Linked DNA regions of Homo sapiens. The protein of the gene in region 1 purifies or fractionates together with the protein of each later gene. This does not show direct contact. Each region holds a gene or a part of one and is shown in the gene's direction. Other genes may lie near its edges.

What was found.
Region 2: the proteins of SF3B1 (region 1) and SNRPA fractionate together in Homo sapiens (co-fractionation; 4 studies listed by BioGRID and IntAct, with this or other methods). This does not show direct contact.
Region 3: the proteins of SF3B1 (region 1) and SNRPD1 fractionate together in Homo sapiens (co-fractionation; 5 studies listed by BioGRID and IntAct, with this or other methods). This does not show direct contact.
Region 4: the proteins of SF3B1 (region 1) and ZRSR2 purify together in Homo sapiens (affinity purification with mass spectrometry; 5 studies listed by BioGRID and IntAct, with this or other methods). This does not show direct contact.
Region 5: the proteins of SF3B1 (region 1) and MCM5 purify together in Homo sapiens (affinity purification with mass spectrometry; 4 studies listed by BioGRID and IntAct, with this or other methods). This does not show direct contact.
Region 6: the proteins of SF3B1 (region 1) and DHX15 purify together in Homo sapiens (co-immunoprecipitation; 6 studies listed by BioGRID and IntAct, with this or other methods). This does not show direct contact.
Region 7: the proteins of SF3B1 (region 1) and SMNDC1 purify together in Homo sapiens (co-immunoprecipitation; 5 studies listed by BioGRID and IntAct, with this or other methods). This does not show direct contact.

Annotation. Positions count from the first base shown.
Region 1 is NC_000002.12:197,404,029-197,407,528, reverse strand, and holds part of SF3B1 (splicing factor 3B subunit 1), read left to right. Parts: intron 1-2,056; coding exon 2,057-2,254; intron 2,255-2,351; coding exon 2,352-2,453; intron 2,454-2,674; exon of another isoform or gene 2,675-2,811; intron 2,812-3,500. UniProt on the Homo sapiens protein: Component of the 17S U2 SnRNP complex of the spliceosome, a large ribonucleoprotein complex that removes introns from transcribed pre-mRNAs.
Region 2 is NC_000019.10:40,757,703-40,761,202, forward strand, and holds part of SNRPA (U1 small nuclear ribonucleoprotein A), read left to right. Parts: intron 1-1,728; coding exon 1,729-1,908; intron 1,909-3,500. UniProt on the Homo sapiens protein: Component of the spliceosomal U1 snRNP, which is essential for recognition of the pre-mRNA 5' splice-site and the subsequent assembly of the spliceosome. U1 snRNP is the first snRNP to interact with pre-mRNA.
Region 3 is NC_000018.10:21,622,314-21,625,813, forward strand, and holds part of SNRPD1 (small nuclear ribonucleoprotein Sm D1), read left to right. Parts: intron 1-411; coding exon 412-488; intron 489-1,434; coding exon 1,435-1,626; intron 1,627-3,500. UniProt on the Homo sapiens protein: Plays a role in pre-mRNA splicing as a core component of the spliceosomal U1, U2, U4 and U5 small nuclear ribonucleoproteins (snRNPs), the building blocks of the spliceosome.
Region 4 is NC_000023.11:15,800,484-15,803,983, forward strand, and holds part of ZRSR2 (U2 small nuclear ribonucleoprotein auxiliary factor 35 kDa subunit-related protein 2), read left to right. Parts: intron 1-3,204; coding exon 3,205-3,313; intron 3,314-3,500. UniProt on the Homo sapiens protein: Pre-mRNA-binding protein required for splicing of both U2- and U12-type introns. Selectively interacts with the 3'-splice site of U2- and U12-type pre-mRNAs and promotes different steps in U2 and U12 intron splicing.
Region 5 is NC_000022.11:35,413,640-35,417,139, forward strand, and holds part of MCM5 (DNA replication licensing factor MCM5), read left to right. Parts: intron 1-235; coding exon 236-347; intron 348-2,189; coding exon 2,190-2,333; intron 2,334-2,699; coding exon 2,700-2,765; intron 2,766-2,998; coding exon 2,999-3,175; intron 3,176-3,500. UniProt on the Homo sapiens protein: Acts as a component of the MCM2-7 complex (MCM complex) which is the replicative helicase essential for 'once per cell cycle' DNA replication initiation and elongation in eukaryotic cells.
Region 6 is NC_000004.12:24,574,555-24,578,054, reverse strand, and holds part of DHX15 (ATP-dependent RNA helicase DHX15), read left to right. Parts: intron 1-1,376; coding exon 1,377-1,812; intron 1,813-3,500.
Region 7 is NC_000010.11:110,292,576-110,294,920, reverse strand, and holds part of SMNDC1 (survival of motor neuron-related-splicing factor 30), read left to right. Parts: intron 1-633; coding exon 634-771; 3' UTR 772-2,345. UniProt on the Homo sapiens protein: Involved in spliceosome assembly.

The DNA of each region.
Region 1 (3,500 bases):
GGTTTAAGCGATTCTCTTGCCTGAGTTTCCCAGGTACCTGGGATTACAGGTGTCCACCACCATGCCCGGCTCATCTTTGTATTTCTAGTAGAGACAGGGTTTCGCCATGCTGGCCAGGCTGATCTTGAACTCCTGACCTCAAGTGATCCGTCCCTCTCAGCCTCCCAAAGTGCTGGGATTACAGGCGTGAGTTACCGTGCCTGGCCTTTTTATCATATCAACCTAAAATTTATTTTGAACTATAAAATTTTCTAGGTACCTGGTACTCAGGGAGTATTTGTTAGTCTGAAGATAGTCTGTGGTCGTATAGCTGACATCATAACCAGGGGGAACCAGATAACTTTGTAAGTCATCTGATGGCCTTTACAGAGCTTTTTCTGTTAATGACTATTGATTTTTAACAGTTCATGAGTATGTTTTTTGTTGTTTTGTTTTGTTTTAGAGACAGGGTCTCACTGTGTTGCCCGTACTGGAGAGCAGTGGCGCTGACATAGCTCACTGCAGCCTTGGACTCCTGGGCTCAAGTGATCCTCCTGCCTCAGCCTCCTGAGTAGCTGGGGCTACAGGCATGCACTACCATACCTGGCTAATTTTTTTATTTTTTGTAGATACGGGAGTCTCACTGTGTTGCCAGGCTGGTCTCAAACTCCTAGGCTCAAAGTACCCACATTGGCCTCCCACACTGCTGGGGATTATAGGCATGAGCCACTGTGTCCAGCCTTGTTTTGTTTTTGATCCCCTGTTATTTGTGTTAGAGTATTTGTTTCAAGTTTGCATGAAGTTTTGCCTTAAAGCTTTTTGTAGCCTCCACATAATGCTGTGGGTATAGATAGAACTGTGGGTATAGATAGACAGAACTTACTGTTGACTGCCTGCATGTCTTTCTCAGTCGTAGTCATTGATTTCCTTAGTGTCACTAGGAGGAAAAGTCTCCCTTAGTGAATCCTACTAATAAGCAACGTCCTTACTAGTGAATATAAAAATATAGTAGACCTTTAAATCCTTAATGGCAAGTGATGCCTGTGGACTTGACATTGATTTCTCTAGGCCTCACATCTTTAGAGTATCCACTTTATCCAAAATGCTTAGTGGTCTGTGCTGGTGCAGACGTTAACTAGCAACAAAAAATATCTGTGCAAAGTACAGATAGCATCAATATAAATTTAACATAATTTAATCTTTAATAGACAAAACAATTTTAGGCTCACTGGAGAAGACGTGTATAGGTTTATTGACCTCTCCAAGAAGTTGTATTTTTTTTCTTTTACTATATATTAAATTATATAAAATAGAGATGGGGTCTTGCCATGTTGCCAAGGCTGGTCTCAAACTCCTGGGCTCAAGCGTTCCTCCCATCTCAGCCTCCCAAAGTGCTGTAATCCTGGCCTGTCCAGAAGTTGTTTTTTTTTTTTGAAGTCTGTTACCAGCTTTAAAAAAAAAAAAAAAAATTTCTTTGTGATTTTCAGCCTGCATTTTTTGAAATTTTACTCGTTTTGCAAAAGGTTTGATCAGGTGGTGTGTATTTTATAGGGCTTTGGCAAACATTTTGGTTTTAGTTTTTATGCATTTAACTAATTTTTGTAGAGTTTTACACTTAAAAGATTTTGTAGTGCAAGAATTTATGTGACATTTTAATACTAAAATATAATTTTTTATGTTTTATGCCCCATATGAGCTTATTTCCATTTTATATAAATCTTATGAAACATTATTTGCTCGACTACAGCATTTTTTGGAATTGCTGACTCAGATTTTATAATTTTCAAATTTTTAATAATTTGACATTTTGACCCACAACATGTTTGAATGTGATTAGTATTTTCTAAGCTCTTCTCTTGTGTTTCCTCAGTTCCCTACACCACGGATATAATCAGTTAGTGGATGAGAAGTATATATTTTAAGTTTCTAATTAAGATAGAAAAGCAAGATAGATGTTGTCTCCAAGCAAATAAAAACCTTATTAGCTAATAAACTAAAATATTTTAAGTGCAAATATTGTTCATTATGCTGTTTTTTAAGTTAAGAAAATCCTAAACTGTCTTATAACTTTTATTAGGTACTTCCTCCTCCAGCTGGTTATGTTCCTATTCGAACTCCAGCTCGAAAGCTGACAGCTACTCCAACACCTTTGGGTGGTATGACTGGTTTCCACATGCAAACTGAAGATCGAACTATGAAAAGTGTTAATGACCAGCCATCTGGAAATCTTCCATTTTTAAAACCTGATGATATTCAATACTTTGATAAACTATTGGTAAGTGATACTAGCAGAAATAAACTATTAATTGTGTTCCAGAATTATAAATCATAACATTTCAACTTCCCTTAACATTTTTTTCTTTTTACTATAGGTTGATGTTGATGAATCAACACTTAGTCCAGAAGAGCAAAAAGAGAGAAAAATAATGAAGTTGCTTTTAAAAATTAAGAATGGAACACCACCAATGAGAAAGGTAAGTCCCAGTTTGTTAAATTGTCATGTTTGTTGCTTATTTATTTAATTAAAAAAAATTTGTAGTTTTTGTAGAGACAGGGTTTTGCCATGTTGCCCAGGCTGGTCTCAAGTGATCCTCCTGCTTTGGCCTACCTCCCAAAGTGCTGGGATTACAGGTGTGAGGCTCTGCACCTGGCCATGTTTATATTTTTAAAAATGTTTTTAATTTTTTCACCAGGAAATGTAGACCACAAAATAGTAGTGAACTATTGGTATAGCCCGCTGTGGAGTGTGGTCTTTCCTTTACTCTCCCAAATAGCCCAAATTGGTAAAGGTTATTTAGAAAGCCTTCCCCATAAAAAATTAACTTTTGGTAGTGTTATATTTTTGTGTTTAGGAATTTATAATTACTGTCTTCATCTTTATCAAGGACATAGCATGAGGGGAAAAAATTTATGTAGTGTGAAGGATTTAACTTTTTTGCTTGTTTTTATTATTAATATTATATATATATTTTTGAGACAGGGTCTTGCTCTCTTGCCCAGGCTGGAGTGCAGTGGTGTAGTCTTGGCTCACTGCAACCTCCGCCTCTTGGGTTCAAGCAATTGTGCCTCAGCCTTCCAAGTAGCTGGGACTACAGGCGTGCACCACCACGCCCTGCTAATTTCTGTATTTTTAGTAGAAACGGGGTTTCACCATGTTGGCCAAGCTGGTCTTGAACTCCTGGCCTCAAATGATTAACCTGCCTCGGTCTCCCAAAGTGCTGGGATTACAGGTGTGAACCACCATGCCCAGCCGTTTGTTTTTATTATTATTTAAATACTCCTGGGCTCAAGAGATCCTCCTGCCTCAGTCTCCGAAAGTGTTGGGATTACAGGTGTGAGCCACCGTGCCCAGCTGGAGTTAGCACAAAATTCTTTGGTTAAAAAAGCTAATAAAAATGCTGAAAAATGAGATTCTCCTTTTTGTTCTTAAGGCCTTTAAAATATGCTTAAAGCTTGAAGATAATTAGTGAAATTATGTGAGGGATTATGTTAACACTATATGTGCCTTGGAAATGGAAGAT
Region 2 (3,500 bases), on another chromosome or scaffold:
GAGGCCGAGGCAGGTGGATTACCTGAGCTCAGGAGTTTGCAGCCAGCCTGGGCAACACCGTGAAACCCTGTCTCTACTAAAATACAAAAATTAGCTCGGTGTGGCAGCATGCACCTGTAGTCCCAGCTACTCCTGTGGCTGAGGAAGGAGAATTGCTTGAACCCGGGAGGCAGAGATTGCAGTGAGCCGAGATCCTGCCACTGCACTCCAGCCTAGGCAACAGAGTGAGACTCTGTCTCAGAAAAAATAAATAAATAAATAAATAAATAAATAAATTATTTTGAGACAGAATCTTCCTCTGTTGCCCAGGCTGGAGTGCAGTGGTGCAATCTTGGCTCACTGCAACCTCCACCTCCCGGGTTCAAGTGATTCTCCTGCCTCAGCCTCCTGAGTAGCTGGGATTACAGGCACGTGCCACCATACCTGGCTGATTTTTTTATTTTTAGTAGAGACGGGGTTTCGCCATGTTGCCCAGGCTGGTCTCAAACTCCTGAGCTCAAGTGATCTGCCTGCCTCAGCCTCCCAAAGTGCTAGGATTACAGGCGTGAGCTACTGTGCCACACTAAGAATCTTTAACATACCTTCCCCTACTGAATAAGCACCATGAAAGAGGGGTTTTTGTCTATTTTGTTCATTGCTTTATTCCCAGAGCCTTGAATGGCGCCTGGCATCTGGCAGGTTCTCCTTAAACAGCTAAGTGAGTGAGATTGAACCTGGAAGACTGAAGTATTCTTGTGTGACAGGAAATCCCCCTGCACTGCACTCCTCTCCTAGCATTGTCTCCTCGGTCCTTTGGCCTGATGTTTATTGCTGTTCCAGCTTCCCTTAAAAATACCAACAGCCTTTCTACTGAACACTTGCTTACTGTGTGTCAGGTACTGTTCCAAGCACTTTAACTCATTTAGTCCTCACAACAGTCCTTTGAAGTGGGAAGTATCATAATCCCCATTTTTCAGACAAGGAAGTTAAGGCCAAGATATTTCTGTGTTTCTCAGTAAGCTCCTGATAAGGTCTGAATTTTTTTTTGTTTGTTTGTTTTTTGTTTTTTGTTTTTTGCTCTGTTGCCTGGGCTGGAGTGCAGTGGTGCCATCTCAGCTGACTGCAACCTTCGCCTCCTGGGTTCAAGCGATTCTTCTGCCTCAGCCTCTTGAGTAGCTGGGACTACAGGTGCGCACCACCATGCCCAGCTAATTTTTGTATTTTTGGTAGAAATGGGGTTTCCTGGCCAGGCGCAGTGGCTCATGCCTGTAATCCCAGCACTTTCGGAGGCCGAGGTGGGTGGATCACCTGAGGTCAGGAGTTCGAGACCAGCCTGGCCAACATGGTGAAACCCTGTCTCTACTAAAAGCACAAAAATTAGCCAGGCGTGGTGGTGGGCGCCTGTAATCCCAGCTAGTAGGGAGGCTGAGGCAGAATTGCTTGAACCCGGGAGGCAGAGGTTGCAGTCAGCTGAGATCTCATCACTGCACTCTAGCCTGGGTGACAGAGCAAGACAATGTCTCAAAAAAAAAAAAAAAAGAAAAGAAACAAAGAAATGGGGTTTTGCCATGTTGGCCAAGCTGGTCTCCACCTCCTGGCCTCAAGTGATCTGCTCGCTTTAGCCTCCCAAAGGGCTGGGATTACAGGCATGAGCCGCAGCACCTGGCCCCTGATAAAGGTCCAATTTTGAATCTTGGCAATTGGGCTCTGAATCCACGCTCTTAACCCGTTCTGCTCTCTGTTTGGTAGCGTATCCAGTATGCCAAGACCGACTCAGATATCATTGCCAAGATGAAAGGCACCTTCGTGGAGCGGGACCGCAAGCGGGAGAAGAGGAAGCCCAAGAGCCAGGAGACCCCGGCCACCAAGAAGGCTGTGCAAGGCGGGGGAGCCACCCCCGTGGTGGGGGCTGTCCAGGGGCCTGTCCCGGTAAGCCAGGTCCCGGAGACCAACCCTCCCACTGCCAGACCTTCCTCAGCCACATGGACTGGCTTTGGGACAGGGTGGGGAGAGTTCTCCCCTTGGGGCTTCAGACCCCTCCTTTCCATTTCTTTATAGAGATGTGTTTCTCTCTCTCTTTTGGGGGGTATTGAGCACCTAGATGATGCTATCTCCTTTCGAAACTCTTGTTCCCTCCTTGTGACTGTTTCTCAAGGTCTTTCTTCATGGCTATGACTTGGTTTCGCTCTCTCCGTGGCCTTGATTTTGTCGCCTGTGTCTTGTAACTCATTGTGCATGTAGAAAATCCAAGTGTCTACTAAGCAACTGTTAGGATTAATAAGTGAACTTAAATTTAGAAAGATCGCTGGATATAAAGGCAATATGGAAAAAAATTAGTTTTATTTATTTATTCATATTATGTTTTGAGACAGGGTCTCACTGTCACCCAGGTTGGAGTGCAGTGGCGCCATCACAGCTCACTACAACCTCCGCCTCCCAGGCTCAAGTGATACGCCTCAGCCTCCCTAGCAGCTGGAACTGTCAGTCCGTGCCACTCCACCCAGCTAACTTTTGCATTTTTTGTAGAGACGGGGCTTAGCCATATCACCCAGGCTAGTCTCAAACTCACTGTCTCAGCCTCCCAAAGTGCTAGGATTACATGCATGAGCCACCATGGCTGGCCCCCAGTTTTATTTTTATATGCCAGTAACAGACCAGTAGACTTCACATTGAAAAGTAGCACTGAGGGGTAAATCCAACAAAAGGTTTGCAGAACGACTACACTGAAATCACAGAATGTAGCTGGGAGAAATCAGAGACTCAGCAATGGATAGGAAGACTCAGTATTGTCAAGAGGTCAGTTCCATCCAAATTAATTGAAGATTCAACGTGATTGCAATCAAAATCCCACCAGGAATTTCGGTAAACACTGGACACTGATTGGCTCTTTCTAAATGTGTGGAAAGACAAGGCCAAGCCAGGCGAGGAGAATAAAGCACCAGGACCTGCATGACCAGGGGAAGCTCCAGCAACCAGGCCAGGCCCAATGGCTCATGCCTGTAATCCCAGCACTTTGGGAGGCCAAGATAGGAGGATTGCTTTAGGTCAGGAGTTCAAGACCAGCCTCTATAAAATAGCAAGACCTCATCTCTACAAAAAATAAAATAGAAAACTGGGCGTGGTGACTCATTCCTGTAGTCCCAGCTGCTCAGGAGGCTGAGCTGGGAGGATCGCTTGAGAACTGGAGGTCAAGGCTGCAGTGAACAGTGGTTTTGTCACTGCACTCCAGCCTGGGTAACAGAGTGAGACCTTGTCTCTTTTTTGTTTTGTTTTGTTTTCTTTTGTTTTTTTTCGGGAGGGAGTCTCAGTCAATCTGTCTCCCCAGGCTGGAATGCAGTCGTGCAATCTCGGCTCACTGCAACCTCTGCCTCTCAAGTTCAAGTGATCTTCTGCCTCAGCCTCCCAAGTAGCTGGATCACAGGCACATGCCACCACGTCCATGTGCAAAAAAAAAAAAAAAACCTGCAGCAACCAACCAGGATGATATACAGTTGGCAGAAGGGTAGGAAGACAGACCAAGG
Region 3 (3,500 bases), on another chromosome or scaffold:
TATTTTTTAGTAGAGACGGGGTTTCACCATGTTAGCCAGGATGATCTCGATCTCCTGACCTCGTGATCCGCCCGCCTTGGCCTCCCAAACTGCTGGAATTATAGGCGTGAGCCACCACGCCTGGCCTATTTCTTTTTCATGGTTTATAATGAGTCTAAGATCTTGTATGTCTGGATTTCAGGTTTGAGAATTAGAAACGTCCAAATGACAGTTTATGTTAGTATTGTTGTGTTCCTTCATAAAGGTTGAGGATATAATTCAGGAAAGCTGAAATTGTTATGCAGATTATTGATAGGAATTGATGCAGATAGCATCTAGCAAATTTTCAACATCGAGTTGTTTCACCCTTTCACCTTAATAAATGTGATTTTAAAGTGTTACAGGTAAAAATGGTTTTATTCCTATTTATAGATTTTTGATGAAATTGAGTCATGAAACTGTAACCATTGAATTGAAGAACGGAACACAGGTCCATGGAACAATCACAGGTACGGAGGTTGGACTGCTTTTATAACATTTTTTTTCTTCTCTTTTACCTAGCCAGAGTTTATTTTTTTATTGCTTAATGAACATTATTGTAGTACAAATCCTTATTTTTTTTGTCTGAATTATGTAATTTTTTTTTTTTTTTTTTAAACAGTTTTGCTCTGTCACCTGGGCCGGAGTGCAGTGGCACGATCTCAGCTCACTGCAACATCCGCCGCCTGGGGTCAAGCAATTCTCCTGTCTCAGCCTCCCAAGTAGCTGGGACTACAGGTGCCTGCCACCATGCCCGGGTAAATTTTTTTTTTAGACGGATTCTCACTCTGTTACCCAGGCTGGAGTGCAGTGGCACAATCTCAGGTCACTACAACCTCTGCCTCCCGGGTCCGGGTTGAAGCAATTCTCCTGCCTCAGCCTCCCAAGTAGCTGGGGTTATGGGTGCGTGCCACCACACCCAGCTAATTTTTTATATTTTTGGTAGAGACGGGGTTTCATCATGTTGGCCAGGTTGGTCTCGAACTCCTGACCTCATGATCCATCTTAACAAAAGCAGTAACAATTCTTATATACAGAGAGAAGCAGAAACAAAGGTGAGGATAGTTTGGTGGAATGGGGATTATGAGGAAGTTACAAAGACAGTGGGAGAAACATGAAAGAAATACCTGTCACATCAGTAGTGAGCCTAAAGCCCAGTCAGGGTTCTTCCATGGCTTGCTGCATTCACTTCTGTAAGCAAAACATTAGTGTGCTAGGAAAAATCTCTAGGAAGGAAACACTGCTGACATTCCCCCATTTACCAGTTGCACATGTGCTAAATTGTGTCATAGAAAACTTGCACTTTGTAGAAGAACAGTAATCTTTTGTAGTCCAGTATTTACTGTGGCTCAGTAGATTAATTAGTTGCCTTAACTTGTATCATACTAATAACTGCACAATTATTTTCCTCTTTAGGTGTGGATGTCAGCATGAATACACATCTTAAAGCTGTGAAAATGACCCTGAAGAACAGAGAACCTGTACAGCTGGAAACGCTGAGTATTCGAGGAAATAACATTCGGTATTTTATTCTACCAGACAGTTTACCTCTGGATACACTACTTGTGGATGTTGAACCTAAGGTGAAATCTAAGAAAAGGGAAGCTGGTAAGTTTGAAGGATTATAAACATTTTTGTGAATGCTAATCCTAATCCACACTATTCATAATATAGATATTATTTGCAAACAACACAAGTGTCTTTGTTGTTTAATATTTCCTATAGTATGTATAGTAATTCTTGGTGTTGCTATTAAAAACATTGAGCAACCGGACGCAGTGGCTCACGCCTATAATCCCAGCACTTTGGGAGGCCAAGGCGGGTGGATCACGAGGTCAGGAGTTCAAGACCAGCCTGGCCAACATGGTGAAGCCTCATCTCTACTAAAAATATAAAACTTAGCTGGGCATGGTGGCGGGTGCCTGTAATCCCAGCTACTCGGGAGGCTGAGGCAGGAGAATCGCTTGAACCCAGTAGGCGGAGGTTGCAGTGAGCCGAGATCTCACCACTGCACTCCAGCCTGGGTGACAGAGCCACTGTCTCAAAAAAAAAAAAAACCAAACAACAAATATCGATGTGGTCGGGCAGGGTGGCTCACACCTGTAATCCCAGCACTTTGGGAGGCCAAGGTGGGCAGATCACCTGAGGCCAGGAGTTCCAGACCAGCCTGGTCAACATGGCGAAACCCCCTCTCTACTAAAAATGCAAAAAAAATCAGGCGTGGTGGTGCGTGCCTTTAGTCCCAGTTACTCGGGAGGTTGAGGCAGACGAATCACTTGAACCTGGGAGGTGGAGGTTGCTGTGAGCCAAGATCACGCCACTGCACTCCAGCCTGGGCTACAGAGTGAGACTTTGTCTCAAAAAAAAAAAATATATATATATATATATGATTGTAATCCATAGCTTGAAAAACAATGATTTAATCTCTCTCTCGGTCCTTTATCTCATGCTGCTTTCCACTTTAAAAAAACCCCCTGTGGGTACCAAAATCTACAGATTCTTAAGTCCCTTTTCATAAAATGGTAGTAGTGTTTCAGTGCACATCCTTTTGTACCCTTTAAATCATCTCTAGATTACTTGTAATACCTAGTATAATGTAAATGCTCTGTAGATAGTTATACTGTATTGTTTAGGCGTTAATGACAAGAAAAAGTCTGTATGTGTTTAGTACAGATACAACCATCATAGGCCTAAACTACATTTTTGATCCTCAGTTGGTTAAATCCATGGATGTGCAACCCATGGATATTGAAGGCTGGCTGTATTTTCAAATCTGAGGATGTTTTGCTTTAATGTCGTTAGGGTTATTCTACATTTTTTTTTTTACTACCTACCTACCTGTCGGGGAATTGATGATTGAAAGCCCCCCGCCTCATATCATCTTACTCCACGCTTCTGAATCTTAGATTTTTCAGAAGTTATTCTTCCTTTACTAAATGTTACAGTTCCCAGTCTACTTTCTATTTAAAATTTTGTTGAAAAAAATTTTTTTTTTTTTTTTTGAGATGGAGTTTCGCTCTTGTTAGCCAAGCTGGAGTGCAGTGGCAGGATCTCAGCTCACTGCAACCTCTGCCTCCTGGGTTCAAGCGATTCTTCTGTTTCAGCCTCCCAAGTAGCTGGGATTATAGGTGTGTGCCACCACACCCAGCTAATTTTGTATTTTTAGTAGAGGTGGGGTTTCATCCTGTTGGTCAGGCTGGTCTCATACCCCTGACCTCAAGTGATCCACCCGCCTCGGCCTTCCAAAGTGCTGGGATTACAGGCAGGAACCACCGCGCCCAGCCGAAATCTTTTTTTGAGATGGACTCTCACTCTGTCGCCCAGGCTGGAGTGCAGTGGCGCGATCTCGGCTCACTGCAAGCTCCGCTTCCCGGGTTCACACCATTGTCCTGCCTCTGCCTCTCCAGTAGCTGGGACCACAGGCGCCTGCAACCACGCCCGGCTAATTTTTTGTATTTTTAGTAGAGACGGGGTTTCACCGT
Region 4 (3,500 bases), on another chromosome or scaffold:
ACCTGTAATTGTTTTTGAAAACAGAAAAAAAACAAAAAAAATTAACAAATGTAAAAAGGGAAAAGACTTTAATAATTGCAACACACCCAAAGATAGCCACTGTTAAGAAAGAGAAAAAGAAAGTGTAAATGTACTTTACGTGTGTCTTTCTATAATGGCATGATATTTATACATATTTTTCTATAAATTGCTTTCTTGCTAAATATATAGTGCATTTATTTCAGTACTGATGCAGGGATCTAATTCAGCCATTTCAGTGGCAATACAGTACCCACTGTACAGATGTAGCATAATTTATTTGCTATTCATAGTTTATTCATTTATAATTTATAGTTCTCTACTGATGGACTTTCAGGTTATATTGGTTTTTCACTCATATGTAAAAAGTTGCAGTAAGCATCCATGCTTATATATCCTTGGTAATTGTCCAGTTATTTCCTTAAGAACATGACTAAAAATGAGATTGTTGGAATCAAATCATAAGTCCATGTAAAATGTAGATGGCCAGGTAGAAAGGGCTTCCTGGTTTGCAGTTTGCAGCCCTTCTGGCAGTGAATGTAGGGGCCCATCTCCCCATACCTTCACTCATACTAGGCATTATCAGTTTATAAAACTATAATGAAACTGTTTCAAATGCACATTTCTGAATTAGGTAGAGTATCTTTTTATATGTTTTATTACCTATTTGTAGATTGCTCAAGTCTCACACCTTTCTCTTTTGGGATACATGTTTTTTTAAAATTTGTTTTTGTTTTGTTTTGTTTGAGACGGACTCTCGTTCTGTCACCAGGCTGGAGTGCAGTGGTGTGATCTCCGCTCACCGCAACCTCCACCTCCCAGGTTCACACGATTCTCCTGCCTCAGCCTCCCGAGTAGCCGGGATTACAGGCACGCACCGCCACACCCAGTTAATTTTTTTTTGTACTTTTAGTAGAGATGGGGTTTCACCATGTTGGCCAGGATGGTCTCGATCTCTTGACCTCATGATCTGCCCGCCTCGGCCTCACAAAGTGCTGAGATTACAGGTGTGAGCCACCGCGCTCAGCCGAAATTTCTTAATGTCTCTAAGCTTCTATTTCCTTGTCTGTAATATGGAGATAAAGTCAATCACAGTATCCACCTCACAGAATTGTGAAGATTAAAGGAGGTGATGGATGTATAGTGTTTAACACAGTGTCAGCAGATGAGAGGTGCTGTGATAGCTCTAGTTCTTATTATTATAGATTTCTGTTATGATGAAGACAATAGATACGGTATGAAATAAGAGAGTAATTTTTTTCCTGTTTATTTGAAATGCTTCTTTTAAATCACATACATGTATCTTTGTGCTCCTTAGATCTTTATTTCTTTATGAGTTGCATACTATTATTGAAAAGCAAGAAAATTATGTAAAAATACTGTATGACTTTATGTCCTATTTCAAAGCAGATGTATATTCAAGTTATTAAATTTTAAAATTTTTAACATTTTACTTTCTTGTGGTCTTAATTTATATATCATTTGGTTCATTTATATACAATTATATGTTTTTCAAAAGATTTGTAAATCAGAGTTGTGCCCACTGAAACATCTATATGGTACCCTCACACATGGCATAGGAACACTGATAGATGCAATGTGCCAGCCTCTGCCATGGCTAAAAGATGTGTTCCTGGAATCTGTATTTGGAAATGTAATATATTTTATTTAAAATTGTGGTTAGGTCCCCAGACTAGACATAAAACTTTACTGAACTCCTAATACTGCTGAAGTAATATAGAACAGTTTCTCATATTTAATTTCCCTTTTATAAATTCAGTGGAAGAATGAATTTGAGGTTCTACACACCTAATTGGCAGGTAGACTTTGGCAATCTAACCCCCTCTTTATATTAGAAATTTGTGATATTGGATGTCTGAGACACTTGCCACTTTAAGGTAATACCACTCATTATAATTGGTCATATAAAAAATAGACTAGACACTCACTAATTTATTTTTATTTTTTCATTTTTTGAGACGAAGTCTCGCTCTGTCACCCAGGCTGGAGTGCAGTGGCATGATCTCGGCTCATTGCAAACTCCGCCTCCCAGATTCAAGCGATTCTCCTGCCTCAGCCTCCCAAGTAGCTGGGATTATAGGCGGCTGCCACCACGCCTGGCTAATTTTTGTATTTTTAGTAGAGATGGGGTTCACCATGTTGGCCAGCCTGGTCTCAAATTCCTGACCTCAGGTGATCCGCCCGCCTCAGCCTCCCAAAGTGCTGGATTACAGGTGCGAGCCATTGCGCCCGGCCCTCACTAATTTATTTTTATAACTCCATTTCTTAAAACCTGTAGCTTTATTTTAAAAACATGATTACAATGTACTTTTATTTTCCTTCTTTTGGCTGTTTAGGTGTTTGGAGGCAAACCACAGGAGTCTCTTAACTGTGTGTAGTAGTAGTCCAAAGGTTTATGGCAAAGGATACTGGGTTTTCAGCGTGCTGCCATCATGGAATTGCTACTTTTAAGAATAGGGGCTGGGTGCAGTGGCTCACACATGTAATCCCAGCACTTTGGGAGGCCGAGGCAGGTGGATCACTTGAGGTCAGGAGTTCGAGACCAGCCTGGCCAACATGATGAAACGCTGTCTGTACTAAAAATACAAAAATTAGCCTTGCGTGGTGGTGGGCACCTGTAATCCCAGCTACTCGGGAGGCTGAGGCAGGAGAATCACTTGAACCCGGGAGGCAGAGGTTGCAGTGAGCCAAGATCATGCCACTGCACTCCAGCCTGGGCAACAGAGTAATACTCTGTCTCAAAATAAATAAATAAATAAAAATAAATGCATAGAATAGGAAGGGAAATGCTTTCTGAATATGAAAAGGTAGATGCTGCTTTGAAACTTGCTACCCATTTTATTGTCACCTAAACATCACTGTGATCAGTCTAGAGGGAAAGTCATAGTGTCCTTTTTTCTGTAAAGTATGTCACAGCCATATATACCTATGAAATGTAAGAGAGATTTTAAGTTATTACCCATTAGGAAGATAGTTGCTGACACGTGGTGCTTTTCCAAAAGCTCTGCTCTTCTCGTTCTCTTACACCCACTTGACTGCTTTAATAGAAAATAGCTTTCGTGATATTTGAATCAGTCCCAAAATGTGTCATTTTGCTCTCGTGTGTGTGTGTATTTGTGGATTAATGCCCATTTCTTTTATCTGATTACATCATTATACTGATAGGCAAAGATTACATGAGGAGTGGTTGCTAAGAGAGCAGAAGGCACAAGAAGAATTCAGAATAAAGAAGGAAAAGGAAGAGGCGGCTAAAAAACGGCAAGAAGAACAAGAGGTATGGTAGGAATCACGTAACTAGTGAACAAACTGATTACTTCACCATAATAACTCTCATGAAGAGTTGCCTATCTTGGGAGGTTGGAGTGAGCTGAGATCACGCCATTGCACTCCAGCCTGGGCAGCAAGAGCGGAACTCCATCTCAAAAAGAAAAAAAAAAAAGAGTTGCCTATCTTGAACTTAA
Region 5 (3,500 bases), on another chromosome or scaffold:
CTCCTCTTCTGGGAGGCAAGCTCTGTCCTCATTGCTAGGCAAGACCTACCATGGTTTGGGAACTACAGAGCTGGGTAGGAACATGGGTCTCAGGCCACAGCCACTACCTTCTTACCAACTCTGAGGCCCATGATAGTTGGGGGAGTCAACTGCCAGCCCACCAATCTGGTGACTGGATGTCACATGCGATGCCCTCATGGATTCTCACCTTGTCCATCTACCCTTCGTCCCCCAGGCTCCCTGATGGACTTACTCGCCGAGGAGACATCAACCTGCTGATGCTAGGGGACCCTGGGACAGCCAAGTCCCAGCTTCTGAAGTTTGTGGAGAAGTGTTCTCCCATTGGGGTGAGTGGCCTGGGATACCTTTGCCACCTTGGCTTGCAGGGAGGAAGGCTGCAGGGCAGGGCCTCTGGGTCCTCAGGACACCTGTGGTGGGCTGGCTCACCCGGAATCTCTTCCTCCTTTCTCTTGGCTGCGGTCAGGATGGCCGAGGAGATGGGAGGAAGAAGGGAGCCAACAGGTGTATGTAGGTTTGGGGCAGGGGGCGAGTACACTGTACTGAGAGTCAGGATGGGGTTTGGGTCTCACCCTGGCCAGAAATTGGCTGTGGGCTTTGAGTAAGTCACCCAATCTCCCTGAGCGTCAGTTTATCCATTTGCTAAATAATGATATTGTTATCATTAATAGCTAAAATCTGGCTGGGCATGGTGGTTCATCCCTGTAATACCAGCGCTTTGGGAGGCCGAGGTGGGCGGATTGCTTGAGCTCAGGAGTTTGAGACCAGCCTGGACAACATGGTGAAACCCTGTCTTTACCAAAAATACAAAATAACTAGCCAGGCGTGATATGCACCTGTGGTCCCAGCTGCTTGGGAGGCTGAGGTGGGAGGATCACTTAAGCCCAGAACGGGGAGGTTGCAGTGAGCCAAGATTGTGCCACTGCACTCCAGCCTGGGTGACAGAGTGAGACCATGTTTCAAATAATAATAATAAATAATAATAATAATAATAATAGCTAAAATGAAGGGCCAGACACTGCTTGAAGTACTTTGCATATATTTACTTAGTCTTCACCTCAACTGTGTGGCAGGTACTATTACCCCTGTGTTAGGGGTGAGAAAACTCAGGTACAGAATGGGTAAGTGTCTTGGCCCAGGTCTCACTGCTGGTAAGCATTAGAGCAGGATGTGATTGAACCCAAGTGTCTGATGAGCTGGGTCCTCTGCTGCGTTGTTGAATGGGTCTGCGGGGATCAGAGCCAGAGAAGGTCTGACATGATCCGAGTGGCGGGGTTGTATAGGGCGAGATGGTGGTCTTTGGATAGATAGGAAGTGTGCCAAATTTGCCACACTGGCACTGTCCAGTAGAAATAGTGAACTGCACATGCGACCCATGTATGTCTTCTCAGATTGTCTAACAGCCACATTAAAAAGTAGCTGGGTGCGGTTGTGTGCATACCTGTAGTCCCAGCTACTTGGGAGGCTGAGGTGGGAGGATCACTTGAGCCCAGGAGTTTGAGACCAGCTTGGGCAACATAGCAAGACCCCGTTTCAATTTAAAAGGAAGAAGGGGAAAGAAAAAAGGAAAAACAGGTGAAGTTACTTCTGTTTAACTCGCTATATCTAAAATCTCATTTCAACATGTTGTTTGATATGTAGATTATTGAGATACTTTACATTCTTAGGAGCTCTGAGTCTTTGAAATCGTGCGTATTTTGCACGATTAAGGACATCTCAGTTAGGACTTTCCCAATTTCAGGGGCTCTATGGCAGTATGTGGCGTGTAGGTCTATATAGAGACGACAAGGGACTCACGATGGGGGCAGGCTTTCCCTGGGAGTCAGGAGTCCTCATCCTAGCCCTGAGGCTAACTCCTCTTCTCTGGGCCTCAGTTTGCTCATCTGTGAGTTGGGCCTCACAAGACTGTGTCACAGGGCTGTGGTGAGGCTTAGGTGAGCCATGGATGTGATGCCCTCAGCGGGGAGAACATCTGGGCACACCGAGGCCCAGGGCAGCATCCCCTTCCAGAGGGAGACGCACTGAGTTGGAGCCTTGAGTCCTATTCTGTACCCTGCAGCCAGCTTTGATGTGTGACCTTGGGCAAATCACAACCTCAGTGGGTCTTTTTGTCTTATGGGGGTCAAAGCATGGAGTTGTTATTGGGCCCTGACACCACCCCACTGCCCCAGGTATACACGTCTGGGAAAGGCAGCAGCGCAGCTGGACTGACAGCCTCGGTGATGAGGGACCCTTCGTCCCGGAATTTCATCATGGAGGGCGGAGCCATGGTCCTGGCCGATGGTGGGGTCGTCTGTATTGACGAGTTTGACAAGGTGAGTCTGATGAGGTGGGTAGTAGCCAAAAGGTGGGTGGCACCAGGGTATGTGACTTCCTGTGCTCAGCCAGCAGAAATCACCTCTGACTTGGGAGACATGTTTTCAATCCCTGGGCCGGTCACTCTAGTAACTGTGGGAAGCTGCTTAACCTCTTCAAGCCTCAGTTCCCATATCTGAAGAGTGGGGAGAAGAAAGGCAAGCCCACACAGTTGTTCCCATGATTAGAGGTGACCTGGTTGCTGCCATTGGCCTTGCGTGGAGCTGGTATTCAGGAGTGAGGGCTGCTGTTAGTTTTCCTGTTTCTACTGCTCCCTGCTCCCTCACTTCAGTAGGTCTGATGATATTTCTCTCTTCCCCACTTAGATGCGAGAAGATGACCGTGTGGCAATCCACGAAGCCATGGAGCAGCAGACCATCTCTATCGCCAAGGTGAGTGGCCCTCCATGGAGAGCCCAGCCTGCAGCAGCCCAGCGTGGCCCAACCGTCCTCAGGCTGCCCTGATTGGGACCAAGTTCTCTTTGCCCAGGCCTAGAATCTGTGTGTGTGTGTGTGTGTGTGTGTGTGTGTGTGTGTGTGTGTGTGTGTGTGTGTGTGTGTAAACGTGTATATAAGAAGGCATCTTTGCCATCTCCTCCCCCTTTTCGTCGTCTGTCGCCTGTTAGGCTGGGATCACCACCACCCTGAACTCCCGCTGCTCCGTCCTGGCTGCTGCCAACTCAGTGTTCGGCCGCTGGGATGAGACGAAGGGGGAGGACAACATTGACTTCATGCCCACCATCTTGTCGCGCTTCGACATGATCTTCATCGTCAAGGATGAGCACAATGAGGAGAGGGATGTGGTACGTCCAGGGGCAGGGCTGGTGGCCATGGGACCTGCCTCCAGGCAGGCTTGTGATTGTGTGGGAAGGAGAATGGAGAACAAGGGCCTTGGCTGGCAAAGTCCTGACTGTCAGGCTGTGAAATTGGGGAGCACGTGAGAGGGCGGTTGTTGTGGACTGCAGAGGATTGAAGCAGGGTCTGGAGTCCTGTGGCCTGCTCTGCCTCTGCCGTGAGTGATAAGCTGTGTGATTTGGGCTAAATCAGTTTCTCCCTGGGCCTCAGTCCCTTATATATGAAACAGAGGAGTTGACATTGGGTTATGAGTAATAGAACCTCAGTTCTGGT
Region 6 (3,500 bases), on another chromosome or scaffold:
ATGTTTATATATGCATATATATGGCTTTTCCCCTTTTTGAGTAAATTTGTACATGTCACACAACTGCACTTGGAGCACAGGGAATTTGTACTTTTGTGTATTGTGGGTAAGGAACAATGACATGTTTCGGGGCTTGTGTCATAGCTCCGTCATGTCTCATTATTTCAAGTCTGGGTTTAAAGATCTTGAGGCAAATTTCTCTGCTGATGGACTTGGTCTGAAGTAAACTGGATTAGTAAAATGAACAAGCATAGATTATTTTATTTTATTCCCACCACCAGTCTCCCAGAGGCTGCTTTCAGCCACAACGCATATGAACAACCTGCAGCCATTCTGCTTGTGAAGTTCTTAGCATAGATACTTTTAAAATGACTTATTAAGGTCAATCTCTAGTAACTGGAAGTAGATACCAGCATTGACTACTTAAAATTGACCCAGGTTTAATAGAGTGGCTACCTGCATAATTTTAACATGTTAAACAACTTAATAGTGTTTAGCAAAGCTTATTTTTAATTTGGCTATGTTTCATTTTATGGTAGACCAAGGTACATAGATTTATAGAGTGCTTTCAGTGTTTTGCTGTTGCTGTTTAGGTTAAAATGCAAGAGTAAACAAGCAAGAAGGAATAAAAGTTTTAATTTCAGTTTTTTTAATAAAGCAATATACATTTACTGAACAAAATTGGGAAAGTGCTGGAAAGTATAACTAAGAAAACAAATTCTGCAGTCCTGTAATTCGTATTTGTATTAGTTGAGATATTGACAGGTATAACATTGTACTATGCTCTTTTCACTTTGCATTACAACCGAACATCGTCCTATGGCAAAGAAAGGAATATTAAAGTAATTTATTAGAAGTGGATTATAAAAGTATTGAGCAAAACCCACCACTGTTGACTGTAATGATGTGAGGTGGAGTTGTCTTTATCTCCAGTAGCAGTGTTTGTGCTAACTTCTGAATATACTTTTAGTGCACAAAATACCTCTTCACAAATTGAAGGAGAATTTGAGAAAGATTGAGATGCCATCTTCTTTTACTCAATTTGGACCTATCCTTTCTTCATCCTACCCTCAGTATCTGATTTCTGTTGTCTAAGTAGGAGGGGTTTTACTTGCAGCAGACTGAGTTCTTGTGTTACCTCACCTAATGTTAAAAGTTAAGGAAGGTGGGGCATCAGCAAGGAAGGGAAAGATGTTTGTGGTGGAGAATGGGAAACCCTTGATTGTAGGGTATTTTTTATTATTTCTGATAGTTACATAATCCATTGGACTTTTTATTCATTTGAACGTTGGACATTTACTCTCTTTGTGATTATAACGCTACCGTGAACATTCTGCATAAAATTCAGAATCTGAATTCTAAATTTTTGTTTTTAGGAAGGATCGAGATCGAGACCGGGATCGTGAAGATCGGTCTAAAGATCGAGACCGAGAACGTGATAGAGGAGATAGAGAGCGAGAGAGGGAGAAAGAAAAGGAGAAGGAGTTGCGAGCTTCAACAAATGCTATGCTTATCAGTGCTGGATTACCACCTTTGAAAGCTTCCCATTCAGCTCACTCAACCCACTCAGCACATTCAACGCATTCAACACATTCTGCTCATTCAACGCATGCCGGACATGCAGGTCACACGTCACTTCCACAGTGCATTAATCCGTTCACCAACTTACCCCATACTCCTCGATACTATGATATTCTAAAGAAACGTCTTCAGCTCCCTGTTTGGGAATACAAGGATAGGTTTACAGATATTCTGGTTAGACATCAGTCCTTTGTACTGGTTGGTGAGACTGGGTCTGGTAAAACAACACAGGTGAGTTATTGTATACCATGGTACATATTTCATTTATGTTTAAGTTTACCAAATGTTGCATATTTGATTCTGGTGGTCATTTCCCTTGTCTGTCCTATAGAACATCTTGAAGAATAGCTGATTTGATGTTTAATTGGCACTCTGAATTTCAGAGTGGAAATCCTATAGAGAATACCTCTCCCCTGAATCTAGGGGAAAATAGTGGTGCTCGCTTTTCAAATTTTGTTACCTTATGTATGGCAGAGGTATTTTGACTCCCGGACAGTACAGATTTAGGGACCCACAGTTTGTTTTCTGGTACTTGGGTGGAGAAATCACTGGGGTAGATTTTTGTCGTTTGTATTTAATATGGTATTTTGAACCATGCAAAAAATGAAATGCCAAAGTAATATAAAGTCTATACCGGTGACTTTTGTCCATCTAGTCGTCCTCCCTCCCATAGAACTAAACACTGTTACTAGTGTGTTATTTGTAATATAGCTAGGATATTTTTTAAACATGGATGGGCTATTATTAACTAGACCCCTGTTGATAGACATTTAGACTGTTTCCCATGGTTGTTTTGCATGGGTCAAGTGTTTCTGTAGGAAGCAGAAATTGCTGGGTCAGAAGATCATTTGTAATTGTGATACAGAAAGCTGGATAGCCTTCCAGAGGGAGCGTATCAATTTACCTTTCCATGAGCATGTAGGAGAACACGTGGGAAACTATTAAAACGTGAATTTTTACAAATCCAATAGGTGAAAAATTGCATTCTAATGTACTTTTTAATTTGCATTTTCTTGCTGTGGGTGAGAAGTAACTGTCTTTATACACTTAAGCCTGAACCATCAATTAAAAATTTCTGGTTTCAAAAGTAGCAGTCCCTGATCATTGTAGAAACTTTGAAAAATTCAGGAAAGTATTGAAGTGAATTACCTGTCTTACCATGCAGAGATTGAACATACCGCATACACAATTTATCTTTTTCTAAAGTTACATGTGCATGGAGACATTTTGAAGGTACTGTAGCAACCAAAATAGGAAGCTTTTATTATAGACTGAGCCTTAGTACCATTCTTCTTTTCTTTTCTTTTTTTTTTTTTTAATTTTTGTGTTGTTGTTGAGACAGTCTTTCACCCATGCTGGAGTGCAGTGGTATGAACACAGCGTCAACCTCCTGAGCTGAAGCGATCCTCCTGCCTCAGCCTCCCAAGTAGCTGGGATCACAGGCATATGCCACCAGTGCCTGGCTAATTTTTAAATAAAATTTTTGTAGAGTTGAGGTTTTGAACTCCTGAGCTAAAGCAATCCTCCTGCCTTAGCCTTGCCAATTTTTCTTTTTTAATGAAGGAAAACTTAGAATTGATGTTAGGGTATTCAAAAATCACCTTACGGAAATTTTAAGAATTTTCAAACTACAAGAAAGACTGTAACTCTGAACTTACTATTTAATTGATATTTGGGTAAAGCCAGACACTGTATACTTTACATGTATTAGCTCATTTACGTTTTTCTATAACCCTGCAGGAAGATATTCATCACCACTTTACAGATGAGCAAAATGAGGTTTAAGTTTATGAGAAACTTAGGTTTAGTGGATTGTCCTGGGTTACATGGATTATGGATTTTGGTGGGCTCAATATTTAAAACTTTGTACCTTTTGTCTTTATATCTAAAGTTTTATATTTCATACTGCTATTCTGTGG
Region 7 (2,345 bases), on another chromosome or scaffold:
TAACATGCCTTCATGCTGGGCATCACTGGTAGATTTTATTTAAAAGTGCATTCAGTTTCCCTTGATACACTTACCTTGTGTGTGTTGGGTAGAAAATAACTGTAGCATTCATATAGGAAGTTGAGAATAAGGATAACCTGACTTTCACCCATGTGTTACTCTTCACTGCCATCAAGGTAGCCCTTCCATTGATGGACATGGCTTCTGGAAAGAAGCGCTTCCTTTTCATAAAGATGTTTATTTTGTGACAAAGGCCAAGGGACTTCACAATTTGGCTATCATAACAGGCCCCACAGTAAACCACAATACAGCCAGAGCTTTAATCATGCTAGAATGGCTAGCTCACAGCTGAAGTTAGGATTTGCGTTTACAAAACTAAAATTTTGACGTATCAGAAGGCAAGTGTTATGAGTATTAGTAAATGTAATGATATTTTCCACAACTTAGAAGTTACAGTAAATGGCTTCCAGCATGGGACCACTTCTGTACCCATTTTTTAACACTAAACAAAGGCAATATGTTTTTCTTCTTTTAAACGTTGAAACCAGAATATATTTTAACATTACTTAAAATTTGAAATTTTTTATTTTTTCCAACACTAATCAGGAATGATTTCTGTTTTCTTTCCCTTAGGTAAAGAGGAGTATTTTTGCTTCACCTGAGAGTGTGACTGGTAAAGTTGGAGTAGGAACCTGTGGAATTGCTGATAAACCTATGACACAATATCAAGATACCTCTAAATACAATGTCAGGCATTTGATGCCTCAATAATCAGAAAAACTGTTGGATTTCATCTCTGCAGGGCTTTACATTTACCTTTTTATCCTTATATTTTTCTAAAGGTAAATTATTTGTTAGATGAGTAAGCAAGATACCATTGTCGTCATTGGTTGGCTTCAGTAGAATGAAACGTGAAGAAATTGCATTTGATAACTGCTATTCATTTAACTTTTCTCATTATCAGTACCACGGTTCCCTCAAAGTTTGTTGAATAAAGCAACTTTTGTAGATGCTGTTTCATACAGCACTTAGATGAATTATTGATCTTCCTAATATCAGGCGCCTACTTAACCTATGGTGTGTACTTTTTGTAAGTTGTAACTTGAAATTTTCAGATGCTTTGAACTTGACACATACTCTAGCAATTCATTGGAACACCAAGGCAAAAACACCAACCTGCTAAAAGAGATCTTTTCATTTTTCTTATTTTCAGCTTTAAAACTTAGCTGTCGTTCAGTTAAGCTTAAAGATAGGTTAATTTGTAAATGGCAAAGTTTGTTTTGAGGTTTTTCCTCAATAACTTGTTTCCCAGGCCTATTAGGCCATCTCTAAAATTGATCTAGCTGTTTTATTTTTATGTACTCTTAGTTTTATGTAAGAAACCTTAGGATGAGCTCCCTTTTCTAAGGTGTTTTTGTTTTTTGTATGTTTGCTTTTTTCCTGTTTTTTGTTTTTTCCATTTACGGCAGTGGTACCATGTTTTGGATGTGTGATGTTTATATGGGAGAACAAAAAGCTGATGTATAGCCCTGTATACAGTGTAGATACTATTTTTGTAAAAACACAAGGCTAAATTAATGAACAAGAATACTGAATATTTCATCATTAAAAATTTCTTGTATTTCTTGTGCATTAATCTGACGATAATTTCCCTGTATATTATGTTCATTTAGCTGTTTGTAATTTTTGTTAATTAGATCAGGTTGTCTGCATTTGTTGGTGTAAGTGAACATCATCACAGTTATCCTGAGTTGAGTTTAAGCCAAATACATGCATAGAAAAGGGTCTTCCTATTAATGGAAGAAGGTAATTTTTAGGATGTGTATTATTTCAGTTTTGTATGTTTAACTTTTATTAAATAAAGTGTTTTTAAAATCTCCAGGGTGTGTTAACAAAAGGGTAAAGTCTTTAGCTGTCAGCACTTAAAGCAATTAAACCTCCAAGTACTTGCACACGGCATTCATGCAAGAGAATACTGAGTGTGTGAGAGGTTTCAGTAAATGCTTAAGTATTCCTTCCATTAGAAGAAATTGGATCTTAAAGGGCAAACCAGGCCTGTGTTTATAGGATGTCCTCATTTTAATGGGTGTTTGTAGATTTTTGGTGGAAGGGGAAAATAAGTTTTTATTTCATGAATTTTAATTTTTTTTATAAATTGAAACTTAGGACAGTGGTAGGTAGAATTCTTCATCTCTCCCTTCCACACCCACCCCTCTCAACCCAGGAGGGTCACTTTTTCTTCATATAATTCGTGGCCACAGGGTAGGACACAAAGGACAGAAAGGCACAAACTGCAGTAGAAAAAGGGTTTGTTGAAGCCTGTAAACTTCTAAATAAAATATACT